3 linked regions of the Homo sapiens genome follow. The protein of the gene in region 3 purifies or fractionates together with the protein of the main gene of each other region. This does not show direct contact. Each region holds a gene or a part of one and is shown on either strand. Other genes may lie near its edges.

Region 1 (2,641 bases), on a different chromosome or scaffold from region 3:
TACCCATTCTTATTCAGGATATGTCTAATGTCTGCTTGGCACTTGTGGCTACTGTTAGATAATGCCTCGATGAGCAGAGAAGAGCCACCAGGGCCTCGACCCTCATACAGCAAATAAGTGTCCTTGGATTTCTGCAATAAACAACACAAGCACATTTTCCTGTTTCCCAATTCCTTCCCACATGTCAGCCCAGAACTACAAGTATCGCAAAACTAACTCCATGGGATGGGCTCTCTAGGCTGGAGCCTGAGCTCTCAATCTTTATTTTTGTCCCCACCCTCTAACCAACTTTTGAGGTAACAGGAAGTACTACCCCTAACTTGGAAGGAGTCTGTTTCTCCGGTCCCTGAACAATCCATCAGCCATCTCTCAGCTTTGCTTCCTACCATCCCTAACCAAATGCCACATCTAGTCCCTACCCAATCCCACTCAGACTCATCCTCCTACACCCCCATCCTGTAAGAAACCCACCGGTCAAGTCTCAAGGTCCCTACCCTGGGCTGCTGAGTACTGCTGTGAAATATCACACACCTAGGCCTTGTCGTAAGAGCTGCTGAAAACAGCATGGTCTCAAAATTGAAACAATTAATCCAGAGCTCTAGGGACTAATCTCTTCTGGACCTTCCATGCCCCTACTCATCCCTTGTCCATGTATTCAATATTCCCCACTCCAAGCACCCTGTCCTGCAACTTTCCAGGAATTCTCAACTCATAACTTCTCCCTTCCTCTTTCACAAAGGTAAAAAGGGCCACTAGGTGGGGAAAATAGTTGCTGTCTCCACCACCTTCTCTGCACCATGGCCTACATGAAGGCAATAAGCATAACGGTTAGAGCACAGGCTCTAAAGTCTGACTATCTGGTTTCAAGTCTGTCATTTTCTATGCGACTTGAGTCAACTCACCTAACATTCCTGTGCCTCAGTTTCTACTTACGGTGGTTTTGAGGATTCGATGAGATAACACACATAGAGTTTTTATCCATGCTTAGCCTGCAGGAAGCACTCAATAATTTTGAGCTATTAAGATAACTATTACTTCCTCAGAGCCTCCCTACCTGCCCCAGAGAAAGGTGTACCCTTACGTGGACTCTATATACCTGCCCCTCCCACCATCTCTATCACCCCCATCCTCTCCCTTTCTACTGGCTTTTCTCCTTTAGGGCATAAACATCTGAAAAACAAACACTTCCTCCACCTAACGTAAGGGCTTTCTCCCACACTGCCCCTTCTTTCTATAATACCTCATCTCCCTACAACTTGGCTGAGCAGTCCCGGTCTTGACTGTATGGCCCTGCATACTGCCTATGCATCCTACTCCCAGTTGTGCTCCTAGAACCAATGACCAAGGACGGTGAGCTCTCAGAAGACTCTAGGCTGAGGGCGTCAACTACATTGCTACCGTTCTCTCTGATAATTTTTTTTTTTTTTTTTGAGACAGAGTCTCGCTCTGTCGCCCAGGCTGGAGTGCAGTGGTGCAATCTCGGCTCACCGCAATCTCTACCTCCTGGGTTCAAGCGATCCTCCACCTCAGCCTCCCCAGTAGCTGGGATTACAAGCATATGCCACCACGCCCAGCTAATTTTTGTATTTTTAGTAGAGATGGAGTTTCACCATGCTGGCCAGGCTGGTCTCCAAACTCCTGGCCTCAAGTGATCCACCCACCTTAGCCTCCCAAAGTGCTGGGATTATAGTCGTGAGCCACTGCACTTGGCCCCTCTGATAATTTACAGTGTGTTTGTTGGCCATCCAGACATGAGCCCGGTAGAGGCTGTGATCAATAAAAAGCATGTCAAACAGTACACACCTCCATTTTCAGTGCTGTCTCAATCGTTGACTTGGGCATATGTTTGCTGCGACACACCTCTAAGATATTGGCCAGGTTGCTGTTGTGCTCAGGGTTGGGGCCTCCTTCTGAGATTTAAAGAAAAAGAAAAAAAAGAGTGAGCAAAGACATCTCATTACAACATGGGAGAATAAAAGGGATTTCCAGCCCCACCAAGCCAAAGGAGTGGCAAATCACCATTTAGCTCTCAGTTACCTTAGAATACCTTAACTAGTGTTTCAGTGGGATACGGAGAAGTATTTTCGGGTTTTTTTGGTTTGTTTTTTGAGATGGAGTCTCACTCTGTTGCTGGCTGGAGTGCAGTGGCACGATCTTGGCTCACTGCAACATCCACCTCCTGGGTTCAAGTGATTCTCCTGCCTCAGCCTCCTGAGTAGCTGGGATTACAGGTGCACACCACCACACCCGGCTAATTTTTGTATTTTTAGTAGAGACCAGGTTTCGCCATGTTGGCCAGGCTGGTCTCGAACTCCTGACCTCAGGTGATCCACACACCTTGGCCTCCGAAAGTGCTGGGATTACAAGTGTGAGCCACTGCCCCTGGCCTGGATAAGTATTTTGGAAAAGTACTTTTTTTTTTTTTGAGACAAAGTCTCACTTTGTCACCCAGGCTGGAGTGCAGTGGCATGATTTTAGCTCACTGTAGCCTCAACCTCCAGGGTTCAAGCGATCCTCCTGCCTCAGCCTCCCAAGTAGCTGGGACCACTGGTGTGCACCACCACACCCAGGTAATTTTTTTCGTATTTTTTGTAGATTCAGGTTTTCACCATGTCGCCCAGGCTGGTCTCAAACTCCTGAG
Region 2 (3,656 bases), on a different chromosome or scaffold from region 3:
GAAACCCACCGGCCAGCTCTCATCAACTCTGGCCTCGGGGCTGGCCCGGCCGCTAAGAGGCGTGCGCTGGGGCAGGCTAGCCCTTCAGGGAAGCGAAGGCTCTTCCGTGCAGAGCAGAGTGGCCCAGCTGTGTGAACCAGAACGTGTCATGAGGTGGGACCAGGGTTCACGGAGACAGGGTGCTGTCCCTGGCTAACTGGGGAGGCTGCACCGCATGCCTGTAGTGACGCCAGCGCATTAAAGCCTCTGTGGAGTCCTGCAGCAAAGGAAGTGCTCGGCACTGTGCAGTGCAGATCCCCAAATCTCTCGGCTCTCAGGAGGGTCCCCTTCCCTGAGCACCTGCATTCTCACATTCCCCCGGGGCTGGTCCTCATGAGCTGCCCGTGGCTCTAGGAGGGAACCCCAGCTCCTGCCTCTGAGCTCCAGGTGCCCATCACCTAACGCCTGTCTCTGATCATGTGTGTTTAAATATGGAGTCTGTTTTCCCTTAGACGTTTGAAATATTAATCTTTTATCTATATTTCATTAGCTATTTTCTAACATAAATACAACACAAGCTAGTATCCAAAGTATGTGTGTTATATTTCAATAAAGTTTACGTAAAACAGTGAACATCCCCACGAAGCGTCAAGAGCCGGCTGCCTTCCCAGTGTCCCGCAGCCCGCGCCGCCTTGTGGCCCACACTGCCTTGCAGCCCGAGACCTCAGGAGGCCCAGCCCTCAGGTCCGCGCCGCGCAGGGGCACACGTTTCTTTCAAGACTCGCACGAAGCCAATTCTGTGTGTTTGGCACACCCCACACTCCGGAACCTCCTCGCCTCACTCTGCCTGTATCTAGACTGAGCCCATCCTGCTCCCTGCAGCTCAGTCTGTGTTGGGCCTGGGAGGAAGGAGACCCCTGACCACAGGCCCTGTCTCCAGCTGGGTGCTGGGGCTGTCAGCTCCGCCCTCTCTTCTCTCAGAAGCCCAGCCTGACTCTGTGGCTGCCCTAGCCACACAGGCCCCACCCTCCAGGAGTTTAAAATTTAGTTAGGGATGAATTCAGATTACTGAGCCAAGATCCCCAATGGTAAAAAGATAGCAAACGGTAGGCACAAAATGAATGGCAGGGCCTAGGGCAGAGGAAAGCTTCTAATTCTCTAGAAGGTTCTCTAACCCTTAGTGGGTGGTCCCAGGACAGTCTTTTGTCTGGGCCCTCCTGGTAGATGCTCTGCGCCCCCATCTCTGCAGGGGCTGCTTTCCAGGATTGTCCCAACCTGAAAACCCTTTCCCTGGCAGCCTTCGACACACCCCTACCTGTGTGCCTCTTCCCCAGCCAGCCCCATCCACCCAGCCAGCCCCATCCACCCAGCCCCTTCTCCCCAGAGCTCCACCCCGTGCCCCTCTGTGCCCTGGACACTTGCCTGCGGCGTCCACTGGAAGGCCCTAGGAGACCTGAGGTCTGATCTGAGCATTCCCAGCAGGAGGACCCAGGACAATGAGGCACCTGAGTGACGCTGAACTCTCAGGAGGGGCAGTCGGTGCCTCAGGAGGAGGGGGAGCCCACACCTGCCTATCTTGTTTGTGACCCAAACTCCTGGAGGAACAGGTCTGCTTCCATCTCTACTTCCCCGTGGCTGCTGCTACCCTGTAGGCGCCTTACTTACCGTGCTGCACTGCCCGGGAGGGTCTGAGATGCGAGGCCCACAGTGATGGTCTGAGCCAGAAGCAGCACCCTGGGGCAGGCAATTCAGGCCCATGCTCTCAAGTGTGTGCTGGCCTTGAGGGGCCCCGGGTCTGCCCTCTTTGGCTGCAGGGGAGAGGATGCAGGTGTCCCATGACTGCCCATGGGCTGCCTGCTGGAAAGCGGAGCTGAAGACCCAGGGCTGCTGAAGTCCTGGGCCCATCCTGGCAGGCTCACAGCCAGGCACCAACCCCTGTAACTTGCAGTCCTCACTGGCTTCCTGTCTGCCTCCCTAGGGTGCTGGGAGAATCAAGGGCAGGTGCTCTGTGGGCTGTAAAATCTGCAACCCACAGGGGAAAGTCATTTTCTCCCTCTGATTCCCCAACTCTCAGGCAACAGGGGGTCTAAATTTCACACCGCATGTCTCACAAAAGCCAGCTCCCTTTCCCCTGATGTGTGGCTGCCAGTGCTCAGCGCAGAAGGGGCCAGCCTGGCAGCACCACCACAAAAAGCAGCCCCAGCTCTGTGCAGAGGAAGACCAGCAGGTCACGTGCAGACCCCAGACCCCACGTCTGGATTCTTTCACCTCTCTCAAGTTAAATGTTAACGCATCAAGTTAGAAGTACCCTGTGGAAACCAACTGCAGAAAAGAACCTGTCAAACATGAAGCAGCGAGGCAAATCATCAACAACCAGGGTATACATGCAGGCAAGAAAGCCGGCTCAGCTGATCAAACGACGCCGGTCCTGTGTCCCCAGACACAAGCAGAGCCGACCGTGTCCTCCTGACCAGACCCAAGGGCCCAGCACTGCTTGGGACCTCAGCAGTGGCCCTTCCCCACACAGCACCACCCGCGTGCCAGCAGAGCTTTCTGGAACTTTCCAATAACCTGCTGCTGCTTCTCAACGCCCCAGGAAACCCAGGCCAGGGTCCACAGCTACACCACTGGTGTCAACCTGCACACACCGCACAGTTCAGGCTGGGCAGGTTCCAATGCCACCAGGACCGCCAATGGACCACCTCTTCAGAGGGCATGTGCCATCCTCCCAGCGCTCACCTGAGTGCCCGCGCCAGACTGCAAGGCACCCACCATGAGGAGCAGGCTGTGGCGGTGACCAAGGCTTCCTGGCACGCTGTACCTGTCTCACCACGGCAGGTGGCATGCACTGTCCCAGCCCAGCCACTGTGCCCCAGCTCCTTCCACCTGAGCTCCGTGGACAAGGGCACAGCCGTACCCGCCTTGAGCTGCTGTGAGGTCATGCATTGGCCTGGCGAGTCCTAGGTGCCCATGGAGGCCACTGGCTGGCCCATCCTCAGAGGCCCTTCTCAAGCCAGGGGGGACGCTTGAGAGCTGGGGTGGGGCTCTGAGGGCTCCTCTCTGCAGACCTCAGTTTCCACTCGTCAGACCTCTGAGAACAAGATGCTTCACACACTCTCATTGCAGTCACCATTCACGTCAGAACTAAGGACTGTCTGCGTGCGGTGCCTCCTGGGACTACACCTGTAATCCCAACACTTTAGGAGGCAGAGGCGGGAGGATCACTTGAGCCCAGGAGTTCGAGACCAGCCTGGCCAACATGGTGAAACCCCGTCTCTACTAAAAATATAAAAATTAGCCAGGCATGGTGGTGCATGCCTGTAATCCCAGCTACTCAGGAGGCTGAGGCACGAGAATCGCTTGAACCTGGGAGGCGGAGGTTGCAGTGAGCCGAGATCACGCCACTGCACCCCAGCCTCGGCGACAGAGTGAGACTCTGTCTCAAAAAAAACAAAAAAACAAAAAACCAAAAAAACTAAGGACCTATGGCCAAGGACTCCGAGCTCATGGCACCGTGCAGCCCAGGCCAAGAGGTACACGAGTGTGTCCCTGAGCGCCGCAGCTGGACCATGCAGACCCTGGAGCTTACTCCTCAGCATCAACACAACACACAGAGCTCTGAAGAGGCAGAGTCCTCAGAAGTCGTCTGTGAGCACAAGGGCTCTGCATGGCCTCTG
Region 3 (3,656 bases):
ATTGAAATAAAATGAGGACTGCCAGTGTGGAGCCAAGATTAAATAGCCTGCTTTAAGCAATGAAAATTTCAACAATGTCACTCTATTCTCAACTATTTTACATTTCCACAAAGTTTTAAAAAATAGTTTAAATTGGCAAATTTCAACCATAGATGCAGATTAGAATCACTCGCGTATTTTTTTTTTTCAAACTAGACATATACGAGATCTATTCCACAGGGTGCCTAGATGCACATATTTCGGAAAAAGCTCACCAGGTAAATCTGACATGCACTCTGGTTAAGAATCTCTGACATAAATAATGTAATTTTAAAAACCTTATCAATGGGATGAGTCATTCAATACAATCTAAGTCAAAGATATTTATGTGTACTGTAAGTCAGGCATGGACCTAAGGATGTCAAGATAAAAACTTATTCTTATCTTCAAGGAATTTAAGAGTCTGTTAGGGAAGATAAGTTCATAAATGAATAATTGTAATATAGAGTGTTAAGTACAACAGAGATAATTATTAGGTTATAGTGAAAGTCTAAAATATATTTCATGACATGCTTATAAAGACAAAATTTTTATAGTTATGAAATAATTAATTACAGATTATCCTAACTACAGTAACTATAATTAGAATTACTTCAAATCCTACTAAAACATAAAGGCTATAATTTAACAAAATCTAAACTTAAGATTTGGGATTATAAGATATACTGTTTATAACTCTAAAATACTAATGCTGGTGGGGGGAAATTTTTTGGTTACTAGCTAAATGATTTTTAAAAAAAAAATCATTTGGGCTTTAGATCACAGGGGAAACAAAGAAAAACAAACAACAAAAAAACAAAATTGGGCTTAAAAGAACCATGCTTACCATGCACTTATAATGGGCAGCTGCCTTCTTGGCATTAAATATATGCAGTTTTCCTCGTGCTTCATTTTCTTCCTCCCCTACATGGCAAAATCCACATTTAGGCCTGGTGTCACTAGGGCTGCTTCTGTGTGGAGACCTATCTCTCTGCAAATGTAAAAGAAAAAACGAACTTAAAAAAAATCATGAAAATATGCTATCGGTATTTCAAGCTTACTTAACATTTCAAATGATGAACTTTACCTATAGATAGTTTAAATGAAATATTCATGGTGCAACAAAAGTAAGAATCCAACAGTTTTTTTTACTTACATAGGAACTACTTTCCATTTCATCTGTTCCATGGGAGGATGTGGACCTGGTATCTTCTGACAGCCCTTTAAAATTAGTTTTTCTTGGCCTTCCTTTGCGACTTTTCTTTTTACTTTTAGGTGATGAGGGCTCCAGTTCATGTTCATTAAAACTTTCTTCTAAATCAGCTGCTTAAAAATGAACAAAAACTTTTTATGGACCAATCTCAAAATAAGTATTAGTTCATGGGTCTTTAGGACATATGTTTCTCCTTAGAATGAAACTGTCTCCAGAAATGAGGAGAAATGGTCTGTGGTATGTTCAATAAAGCCACCCAATGTTTCAGATAAATGCAATAAAAATCAAATACAAATAGTTTAGTAAATTAATTTTTAGAGTTTGCTTTTGCATTATTATTTTTTTTTACCATAGGTTTCAAAGAGTTTGTAAAATTAGAACACTTACCTAGAAAATACACTTACTGTAACTTGGAAAACTAAATGAAAATAAAGTAGATATATCTGTGCTATTCAATGTAGTAGCCACTAGCAACATGTGGCCTTAAAAAATTTAAGTCAGTTATAATTAAATAAAATTAAAACTTCAGTTTCTTAGTCACACTGACCGCACTGCAAGAGCTTATTGGCTACATGTGGCTAGTTGCAACTGTATTAGACAGCACATATACAGGACTGTTGCCACTGTCACAGGAAAGTTCTACTGGATAACACTGGTCTAGATTACTCTTCAAACGATCATGAAAACTGAATGAACAAATTCAACAAGGAAGTCATTTACAATTGAACTAATGGATCAAGTAATTAAACAAATATTAAGTACAAAAAGAATTTCTAATACAAGCAGTAAAAAAAGTATGTTGCAAGTTAGTTGCATATGCTTTAATGAATTAAGCAAAACTTACGCAGAAATTTGAGAACTGCATTTCTCAGTAATCTGAAAAGAATTTCTACCATAATGAAAGGTGTTTCATCAGTAGTTTACTATAAATATTTTATTTATTGAAGGCCTCTGTATAAGATAATGTATTAATATTTAGTGTTTAAAAGGGTAATAAAAACCAAATGTTCACTTGCCATAGGCTCAAACTATGGAAAGTTTTAGGCACAGCTCTAATATTTTCGCCATTTTTTCCTTTACCATGTTATTGATTATAATTCTAGAGACTAATTTCTCAATGAGAAAGCATATCAACTCCTATGCTCAGACGTTAATATCTTTCCTACTACTTTGAAGGTTGTTTATTAGAAATGAAAGCACATTTATTATAAGAAAAGGGCAATTCAGTTGGTATACTTGAATATATATATAAATTAAGGGAACTACAAGTATTAGGTTGTTTGCAAAACAGTTAATAACAATTTACATGAGTGCAACTTCACATAGCTCTGGTGGGACTTGAGGGAGTTAAGGGGAAAAGGTAAAAGTTATTGCATAGTGTTTTATAGGCAACAAAATAAATTCACGTGAATAACTTCCTGTGAAGACACAGAAGTCAATTAAAGATGTTTTCTCTCCTTAACACGATAGCAAACTTCATGTCAGAATACACTACTTAATTTAAATATTCAAACTGACAATTTTTAAGACATGGAATTTCACTAAAAGCTGTTAGAATTACTTGCACTTGGCTGGGCGTGGTGGCTCACGCCTGTAATCCCAGCACTTTGGGAGGCCGAGGTGAACAGATCACGAGGTCAGGAGTTCGAGACCAGTCTGGCCAATATGGTGAAACCCCGTCTCTACTAAAAATACAAAAAATTAGCCGGGTGTGGTGGCGCACACCTGTAGTCCCAGCTAATCGGGAGGCTGAGGCAGAAGAATTGCTTGAACCCGGGAGGCGGAGGTTGCAGAGAGCCGAGATTGTGCCACTGCACTCCAGCCTGGGTGACAGAGCAAGATTCCATCTCAAAAAAGAATTACTTGCACTTGCCAAATATTAAAAATTCTCAAAATGAAAAATCATAACTGTTTCAATCATTCTAAGACATCTATGTGTATGTATATATAAAACATTGTTTTATACATATGTATACACATAATATATTCAGTTATCTATTATGAAAATAAGCATCACTAACACCATACATAACACTATTAAATAACATTTAATAGTTGTTTAATAAATAACAATAAACAAATAAGATGTTTAATAAATAACATTATTAAACATCTATAACATTTAATAATGTTATTTATTAAACATCTATAAAAATTACTTAAGAACTGATTCCATTATCAAGCCAACATGATTAGTTTCCCACATGTCATATTTGTTCTAAATATGAAATCATTCCACAAAAATTTTTAACAACTTTAACATCAATAGTAAAAGTCACGAAAGATTCATATATTTAACTATATTAGACTTTCAAACTGAAAAGTATAAATTAAAAAGTGGTAAATTTGGGCTGGGTGTGGTGGCTCACACCTGTAATCCCAGTACTTTGGGAGGCCAACATGGGCAGATCACCTGAGGTCGGGA

Evidence for each region.
Region 1: the proteins of PHF6 (region 3) and TACO1 purify together in Homo sapiens (affinity purification with mass spectrometry, with the first as the bait; one large-scale study listed by BioGRID). This does not show direct contact.
Region 2: the proteins of PHF6 (region 3) and LRPAP1 purify together in Homo sapiens (affinity purification with mass spectrometry, with the first as the bait; one large-scale study listed by BioGRID). This does not show direct contact.

The regions. Positions count from the first base shown.
Region 1 is NC_000017.11:63,603,803-63,606,443, reverse strand, and holds part of TACO1 (translational activator of cytochrome c oxidase 1), read right to left. Parts: intron 1,911-2,641; coding exon 1,804-1,910; intron 132-1,803; coding exon 4-131; intron 1-3. UniProt on the Homo sapiens protein: Acts as a translational activator of mitochondrially-encoded cytochrome c oxidase 1.
Region 2 is NC_000004.12:3,525,901-3,529,556, forward strand, and holds part of LRPAP1 (alpha-2-macroglobulin receptor-associated protein precursor), read right to left. Parts: intron 1-3,656. UniProt on the Homo sapiens protein: Molecular chaperone for LDL receptor-related proteins that may regulate their ligand binding activity along the secretory pathway.
Region 3 is NC_000023.11:134,411,176-134,414,831, reverse strand, and holds part of PHF6 (PHD finger protein 6), read right to left. Parts: intron 1,345-3,656; coding exon of another isoform or gene 1,342-1,344; coding exon 1,175-1,341; intron 1,010-1,174; coding exon 866-1,009; intron 1-865.